2 separate regions of the Homo sapiens genome follow, and region 1 is linked to region 2. A link means that fine-mapping ties the variant in region 2 to the expression of a gene that starts in the linked region. Tissue or cell type: adrenal gland. Region 2 holds a variant in brackets; the other region holds the start of a gene. All regions are shown on one strand. Distances are from middle to middle. Region 1 holds the start of FSIP2-AS1 (FSIP2 antisense RNA 1). Region 2 overlaps FSIP2-AS2 (FSIP2 antisense RNA 2).

Region 1 (4,410 bases), 67 kb after region 2:
TTATTTTATTTAGAAATAGTGTCTCTGTCACTGAGGCTAGAGTACAGTGGCATGATCATTGCTTCCTGCAGCCTTGAACTCCTGGACTGAAGACATCCTCCCATCTCAGCCTTCCCCCAAAATAGCTGGGACCACAGGCATGCCACTGCACTCTAATTTTTAAAAATCTTTTTGTAGAGACAGGGTTTTGCTATGTTGCGCAGGCTGGTCTCAAACTCCTGGCCTCATGTGATCCTTCTTTCTCGGCCCCTCAAAGTGTTGGGATTACTGGCATGAGCCACTGTGCTCAGCCTCAATTGCTTTTTAATTCATCACAATGCAAAAAAATAAAAATAAATAAATGTTTTCAGGATTTGAATTTGAAGGATGTGTTGCTCAGTTTTCTCTATCTACAAATGAGAGAAAATGAGGCCATTTTAAAGCAGGAGATTTTGGTTGAGCATGAGGCATAAATTTGGAAGGGTTTTTAAAATTCTTATGCATAACTTCTTTATAATCATATGGGATGTGCAGTTAACTGATTAAAAGTCATTTAATTTTTGTATTCTTGAAGGCTTTGTTATTATTATTCAAAGTTTAAAAGAACAGTAGAATTGAATATCTTGTTTTATTTGCATTCCAGTATTCTGACTTAAATTCCTTTTAGATATAATACTCCAACTGTATCATTACAGGGATTATATTTGCATTATCTTTCTAAGTATACTCATGTGTATATATTAGGTGAAACAACATGTAATCGTCATTTTGTATATCAAAAACAGTTGATTATTGACAATTAATAAAATTCAGTTTAGTATTACTATAATACCCCAGATCTAGGTCAGTAGTTTCAGTTACCAATAATTACTTGCTACATCACCAGTCCAGATACATCACACATCATTCTAATTGGAGATATTAGCAGTCCTACCCACCTGCACGAGGAGGTTATTTTCCATCCTTAAAACCAGTATTCTCCCAAGATGGACGGTAATGTAGCTACAACTACAAACTCTTAAATAGACTTACTCCAGGCATGACTTAATTGATTTCAGAAAAATAAACAAAAGCAAAACAAGCAAGAGAAGATCCATGATTTCATCACATTGACACTTGGCTCTAACAATTCTATATTCCTATTCTCAGACATCTCCAAGGTCTTCCAGTGACTTCGCTCATGTTCCTTCTTCCACTAGGAATACCTTTTCCTCATTCCCTGTATCTTGACATGGCCAAAACCTGTGTAGCAGTCAAAGCTCAGCTTAAAGTCTTCTATCTGTGTAGAGTCTTGCCTGATAACACATGAAGATATATAATATATAATTAAGTTCTGAGGAAAAAAACTGTGTTGCTCTTGGCTGCCACACCCAGCAGTTGGCCATTGCAAATAGGTAATGATTTGTAACAAATAGAATTTTGGACAAAACAAATATAGAGTTCTTCACCTGGCTGGGCCAACCTTCCTTCTTTGTGACAAACTATAATCTAGGGACTAAAGTACTACTGCTATTGCAATCTATTACTAGCTTTTCTGGAGTTGCCACACTTTTATTTTAGTCAACTTGATATTGCAACACAACTCCTTAATGTCCTAAAAGTAAAACATAGCATAACATTAAATGTTTTGTCTAAAGCTATTTTAAAATAATTATATGGCACCTCTAGGTATCACTGGAGACATGGTAGGATGCATCGCTAAGCCTGGAAATTATTTCTCTGCCCCAAGCTTTCCAGCTTCTTAAGAGTTCATAACCATCCAACCAAGGCAGACATCAGCATTTGACTTAGAGGATTGAATTTTGGGGTGTTATTTTCTCAATTTATTGGCTAAAATTAAGATTTTGCAAGGTGAGAAAATAAATGTTTGAGGAAAATCTAATTTCTTTTTTTGTTTAGATTTTTCTTTAGTGAGTTGCTCAAAGGGTGAAATATATATGTAAATAATAATTTCAAATATATTGAATTTTCTATATTTTCTTTAATCCATGCTAAAATTACAATGTTTCCTTTTTTAAGTTTTTAGTGAGGAAAAGATGTCTGTTTCTACATGGTCAAGGAAAAAATATGAATCAAAACAGTTCCTAAGAAACATATACGATGATTCTTCAATTTATCAATGTTGTGAACATCTCACTGAGTCAGTACTTTACCATTTAACTTCGAGCATTTCTGATGGCACCAAAAAGGGTAGAGAAAAAGAGAAAGCATGGGAAATTCAAGAAGCAACATTTAGCAAGATTATTTCAATTCATTCTCAAGTGTTTGAGAGCAGGTCAATTTCCATTGGAGAACTTGCTTTATGTATTTCTGAAATCATTATTAAAATTCTTTTTAATAATAAAATTATACAGGCTGACATTGCACAGAAAATGGTTGCCATACCTACAAAATACACTTACTGTCCAGGAATAGTTTCTGGTGGCTTTGATGACCTCTTTCAGGATCTCTTAGTAGGAGTGATTCATGTACTGTCCAAAGAAATAGAAGTAGATTATCACTTTGAAAGCAATGTAAGAAACAAATCATTTTCTATGCATAGAAATAATAGTGTACCCCTTTGCAACAAAATCAATAGACAGGCAAGCCCCAGAGACTGGCAATTTTCTACTCAACAAATTGGTCAACTTTTTCAAAAAAATAAGTTAAGTTATCTTGCATGTAAGTTAAACAGCCTGGTTGGTAACCTAAAAACAAGTGAATCCAAAGAAGTAGTCAATAAAGTTTTTAATATTGTTTCAGATTTATTTTCACCAGATGAATGCCTAGATACGGGTATGGATTCTGGTAAAATACAAAGAACATATTTCTACTCCTCGAATAATGAGCAACCTAATAGCATACTTACCAATAACCTACAGCTCTCCTCAAAATCAGTTTTTCTTCTCAATGTTGTATGTGAGAAACTTATCAGAATACTTTTGGAAGAATGCACAAGCACTGCTTTTCCTGATAAAGGGTCTGTTTCAGAGGAAACATCAGCAGAAGAATGTCAACTTTTAAAAATGCTTCAAAGTGTAGAAGATGGAAAATCTGATTATCGTAAGGGAGGAATGGACTGTGAATGCCTTCAAGTAGATTACATGTCAGACCTTTTGGAGAATGTGGCAGAAATTGATCAAGACTTATTGACATCAGACTCTATGCTTACTATTATTTCCCACAGCTTGGTTAAATCATTGATGGACAAATTATCTCACAGCATACAACAAGCTCCGGAAAGTCTACCTTTTGCAAATAAGCATTTGAACTACAGAACAAGAGAAATACAGTCTAGTTTCATAAAAGCAAGAAAGTCAGAATTAATAGAATTAGGACAGAGTAAAAGTTCTTTAGAACTCAGGAGCTATGATAGTAATTCTTTGACAGTATCCCTGAATAATCCCAGTGTGGTTAGCTCCAAAATACAAGCACCATTTAACAAGCATTGTGCAGTAAAATCCTCTTCTGTGTCACCTTTTGAAAGACAGAGAACAAAGGAAATGGATAAGGTAGCCATTCATAATAAGCTACATCAGGAAGGTATATATGCTGGTGTTTATTCAGCCACATTTTTGGAAGGAATAATTTCAGAATTGTTTTTTAATCTCTCTATGTCATTGTGGGGCAAAAATAAAAACATCACTGTGTCCTGGCTCAATGAGATGAATACATTATTTGTCAACAATGTAGTGAATGAATTTAATAATGCTCAAGTCACTGTTCTACGGAATGCTGAAGAAAGGCTGTGTTTTCCACCAGTTCATACAGAAACTGTTAGCAAAATTGTTGACTCAGTTTATTATGATGTTTTACAGCAGTATGAATTAAAAGTGGCCTGTGGTAATAATCCGGTATACGACAATGCCTCAATAGCAGAACAAATAACAAATGGCATATTGTTAGAGATTTTAGACTACAAACTGCCATCTTGCTTCAAGGAACATCTCATACCCCATTCATATTACCCTCTCAAACCTGAAATTATATTGCAAAAGCTTCAAAGTAACCTAACAGAATTTACTTCTCTACCCAGGTCTTCATCAGACTATAGTACCATGTTATCACATTCATTTTTAGAAGATGTCATAAGAAGGCTTTTATCTCAGCTAATTCCTCCACCCATTACATGTTCCTCTTTAGGAAAAAAATATTTAATGAGTTCTGATTTTAATGAAATGTCCACTTGTATAATAAATAAGGTTATGTCAGCCATTTCAAAACATAAAATCTGGTTCACTATATATGATAATCAATATCTATATACTGGAAAAAACCTCCAAAAGATGGTGGATTCTGTATATTGTAATATTTTGCAAATGTCTGACTCTCTTGTTTCAATACAAAAAAGTATAGTAAGCCGAAGCCCAATTATGATTGACCAAATAGCCAGCTTTATCATCCAAGAGATTATCGAAAATCATCTTCAACCATTTTTGAGTGGAGAGGTTT
Region 2 (4,410 bases):
GCTTCTTAACTACAGTAGACTTATTGAGGAATAAGTGGGAGATATTATTATTTGTATTAACATAGTTTTACTGGAAATTGATTATATAACAGTAAATTGCTTACTCTTCACTTATATATAAAGTTAATAAGCAGGAAGACTTGTTTTATAATAATTTTGGATATGTGACAAATTTTAAAAACAAACTGCAGCCATTTGATTAATAAAACAAAAATACTCATTTTGCTGGATAATATTTTCTAGCTATTTTTCAAACTTTTTCCCCCAAACACCTAACATATGTAACAGTGGCTGAGATTGTAAGAGCAATTTATTCCAATAATTAAAATGAAAAAAAGCTATAAAAAACAGAAAGTCCAGCCCCTCAATGTCTTTCTGTGATTTTAAGCTAGATAACATGGTACAATGATCAGGACTACATAGAGATGGGGCAGACTGATCACTATAAATCATTGTCTGTATTGATGCTGCCCAATCAATGATATCATAAGATATGATAATTTTAGAGATGAGAAAAAAAGCAAAGAGTTGAAATAAATAGGGTTTAAACACGGGCAATCTTACACCTGAGTCTGTGCTATTAAAATTGCACTATATATTCTTAATGTCTCTTACTACCAAGAAATTTTCTCCACTTATGATGTGGTATATGTCTCATTACCTTACATTTTAAGCTTAAACTAAAAATGTATTTAGCATGACTTTATTTTATATTTCACTTGTGTGTGTGTGTGTGTATGTGTGTGCATAGAGAGACAGAAGAGACAGAGAGAGAGAGAATAGATGAGTAAGTTTTCCAACCAATATTTAATCTGGGCCCTTTATTTAAGGTCTGAACTATTTAACAGGTCAGAAATCTGTGTTAAGTATCAGTTTTTCAACACCACTAAGATAAATATATTACAAAGCAATGCAAAGTATAATGCAAAGTACTTTAAAGACTGAGATGTTGGCAAAGATATATACCTCATATTATCAAAAGGTACTGTGTGGTTCCTAACTATATTTTTAATGTAAGTTTTCATTTTCTCTTTCTTAACAGTGATAATTATTTGAAAAATACATAAAACATCATCAAAGAAGTTATTTTCCAAAAATAAAAAAAAAATAAGTACTCTTAGTGAATCAATTAAACGAGGCTTGGTGGTTTCATTCCATCTGCTCTTCTGCAGATTCTGGAATCCTTTAGAAACTGACATACATCATGAAGATTCTGATATCTATATTTTTGTTGTTACTAGACAGACTCTTGAGCCCTCTGTCAAATTGATATCCTTAACAAAGTATTTAATGACATGCCAATATACCAGTCTTACCTCATCAGCAAGATGTTCTCTCACCCTTTGTCCTTAGTTAAATGGGTACTCATAAAATTCATGTCCACTCAGAACCTCAAAATGTGAAGTTATTTGGAAATAGACTATTTACATATGTAATCTGGCCAAAATAAGGCCATATTGGATTAATATGAGCTCTAATCCTATGATTGGTATCCCTGTAAGAGATGATAAATGTGGACACATGGACACACACACAGAGAAGCAGCCATGTGAAGACAGAAGCGGAGATTGGAGTGATATAAGAAATGCCAAGGATTGCCAGCAATCACCAAAAGCAGGGAAGAAATAAGAAAAGATTCTTCAAGAGAGCCTTCAGAGAGACCATGGCCTTGTCAATACCTGGATTTTGGACTTCTAATCTCCAGAACTGTGAGGGAATAAATTTCAGTTATTTTCAGATACCCAGCTTGTGGTACTTTGTTACAGGAGCTCTAAGAAACTCATACACTCTTCTAATGTGGTGTTTACCTTTCTGTGTGGAATTTATGTTAATATGCCCTTTACTATATCTGCATATACCAACTTGATAGCATTGAACCTTAATCTAGTTAACATTCAGCCTTAATTACTATAGATTTATATATCTATTCTTCTTTTCCTGTTTATTTCTCAGGCTTTTTTTAGATTTCACATTGTAATCATTACTGTACATTTCTGGAAAAAATCCTTTAAAATCTTTGAAACTTTCTGTCATTTTAGAATGTTAATGTCAATTCCTCAAGTTTCTTAGTTTCAGTCTATTGTATTATGAGTAATTCTATTACATTACAATATACTAGCTACTTTTACTAGCAATTTTAGATATGCTTTATGGGCAGGCTACCTTTTTAACTGTTAAATGAATTATGATCACTGCAATGTATTATCAAAACATTTTATTATGTCTACTTTCTGATGAATTTATTAATATTAATTATTTTAAACTATCAGATTAAATTATTGAAGCTGGACAATATAAGATAAAGTAGACAAGACAAGTAATTTT[C/A]AACAAAAGTTTACTTTTTATTTTTAATTTAAAAATACCTTGCTTAGAAAAAAAGAGATAAGGTTATTGTGAGATATCAGTCAACCAAATATTAATTAAAAGGTGGCATTATTAAGAATATATGTCAAATATTAGATGAAAGCAAAAATAATCAAATGAACTCTTACATATTCAAGAAATTAAGGAAGTATATATAACTACATACAAATTAAAATAAATAGAAAAGTTTATGGCTAGATTGAATCCACGTAAGAGTTCATTAATTAACTATTGTGTTTTAAAGAGTATAACTTAAATTGGAATGCTTTTTCTAAACTAAAACGATCATTTCTATTTTTTAGATTCAGAAATTAGCTCAGCTTAATGAAATAGACAAAAAATGGGGATCTGTGATGTTTAATTCTACATATCATTGTGGCTGAGATCCAGCACCCAGATATTTGGTCTAACATTTGGAATGTTTCTACGAGGGTGTTTTCTGGATGAGATTAACGTTTAAAACAGTGGGCATTGAGTCAAGTAGATTGCCCTCCATAATATGAGTGGGTCTCATCCAATCAGTTGCAGGGCTTAACATAACAAGTACTAATTTCCCCCAACCAAGAAATTCTGCCAACAGACTGCCTTTGGATTCAAACAGCAACTCTTTCTCAGCTTGCTGGGCTACTGGCATATGTAGATAGCTCTCTGTATATATATAGAGGAAGATACACACACACACTAACACACATAAACACATATCCCCTGTTGGTTCTGTTTTGCTTGAAAATCCTGACCAACACAGGATCCTAAAGATCTTGTATTTTATTTCTCAATTTGACATAAGGAGGTGGTAAAACCCAAACATTTAAATATTCTGCTTATATAGTTACATTAAGAAATGATAAATAAAAATGAAGAAAACCTGCGAGTATAGTGATTATTATATAAGCTAGGGCTTTGGGTTGCAAATAATAGAAAACCAGCCTGGCTAACCTAGACAGAAAAGATTTGAGAAAGCTCAGAGAATATGTAAGAAAGTCTGAAATAATCCAAGTTGAGGAAAATGGAAACACAATATAAAACCACAGATGTCATTGGATTAAAATATTGTTGCTTGTGCTGTGACCAGACATTAACCCTGACTTCATGGTCCTTAGCCTACAAGAATCTTTGAATTAATTCCTTTTCAGAATACAAAGTCACATGCCCTTGACCCTCCTCCAAGGCATGCCAAATGAAAATATGTGACCCGTCTTAATTTCAGTAAAAAGTGGGATTGAACATCTACCAACATTCATATATGCGGGATTTTCCCCAAATAAAGTAATTGTTGTCTAAAGAATTAAAAACTCTACATCGATTATCACAAGTAAAATTGAGTTGTATTTCCTCTTAAGACAGAGTAACATGGAGAAGATATGCCCTGAAACAGCTAAAAAATAAACAGAATATAGGAAGCAACAATTTTCAAGACACTAGATCAGGGAATGGTCAATGATCTCTGAAAAACAATAAACAAAAGAGGCGAGGCATATTGATAAAACTTGAAAGAACTTTCAAACCACAGCAGAGGGAAGGAGAATCCAGATGGATCCCATCTGACTCCCTGAGTTCAGAAGACAGAACCCAGAGCCCAGGAAGGCAGATAGAGCTAGAGCATGCAAAAGAAAAGTAGAAAGAGGACAGCTGCATGGAACGAGAACTTTCAAGATGTGCAGAGAATTATCTTTGAGTATTTCCTGCATATTTGTCAGAATACTGTGAGAAAACTACCATATGCCATGGAAAATATTCACTCAAAAGAGATAGTGCTGGGCTTTCACAAACAGCTGTAAACATTACCTGTTCCCACCAGCTAGGTTGGAAAAGTTTCTGATGGATGAGTCACTGGGTAGAGTTTGGAGAATAAAGCAATAATTAACCCTAAACTGAGGTGTCTTCTGATCTTCTCTAATAGATCTCAAAAGTAAGACTCAGAAGGAGAAAATTTTATCCTATAACTTTAGAAGGAGCTGATTCCAGCTATTAGTCTTCAAGTCTGCCAGCTGAAGTTCCAAACATCATAGAACAGAGACCAACTGTCTCCTCTGTGCCTCATCTGAA

The links. PIP is the estimated chance that this variant, and not a neighbour inherited with it, causes the effect.
Region 1: it holds the start of FSIP2-AS1, and the variant in region 2 is the best candidate, but not a certain one, in a credible set for the expression of FSIP2-AS1 in adrenal gland (GTEx, PIP 0.51).

What each region holds. Positions count from the first base shown.
Region 1 is chr2:185,797,699-185,802,108 of GRCh38, forward strand. It overlaps FSIP2-AS1 (FSIP2 antisense RNA 1), which reads right to left and starts at 2,452. Exons shown (of 3, transcript NR_144453.1): 1 at 2,382-2,452. It overlaps FSIP2 (fibrous sheath interacting protein 2), which reads left to right. Exons shown (of 23, transcript NM_173651.4): 17 at 1,999-4,410.
Region 2 is chr2:185,730,682-185,735,091 of GRCh38, forward strand. The region is part of intron 1 of FSIP2-AS2 (FSIP2 antisense RNA 2); the gene reads right to left. Among named protein-coding and RNA genes, the nearest start is that of FSIP2, 5.9 kb to the right of the region's middle. The variant C/A (reference allele first, on the strand shown) is at 2,326.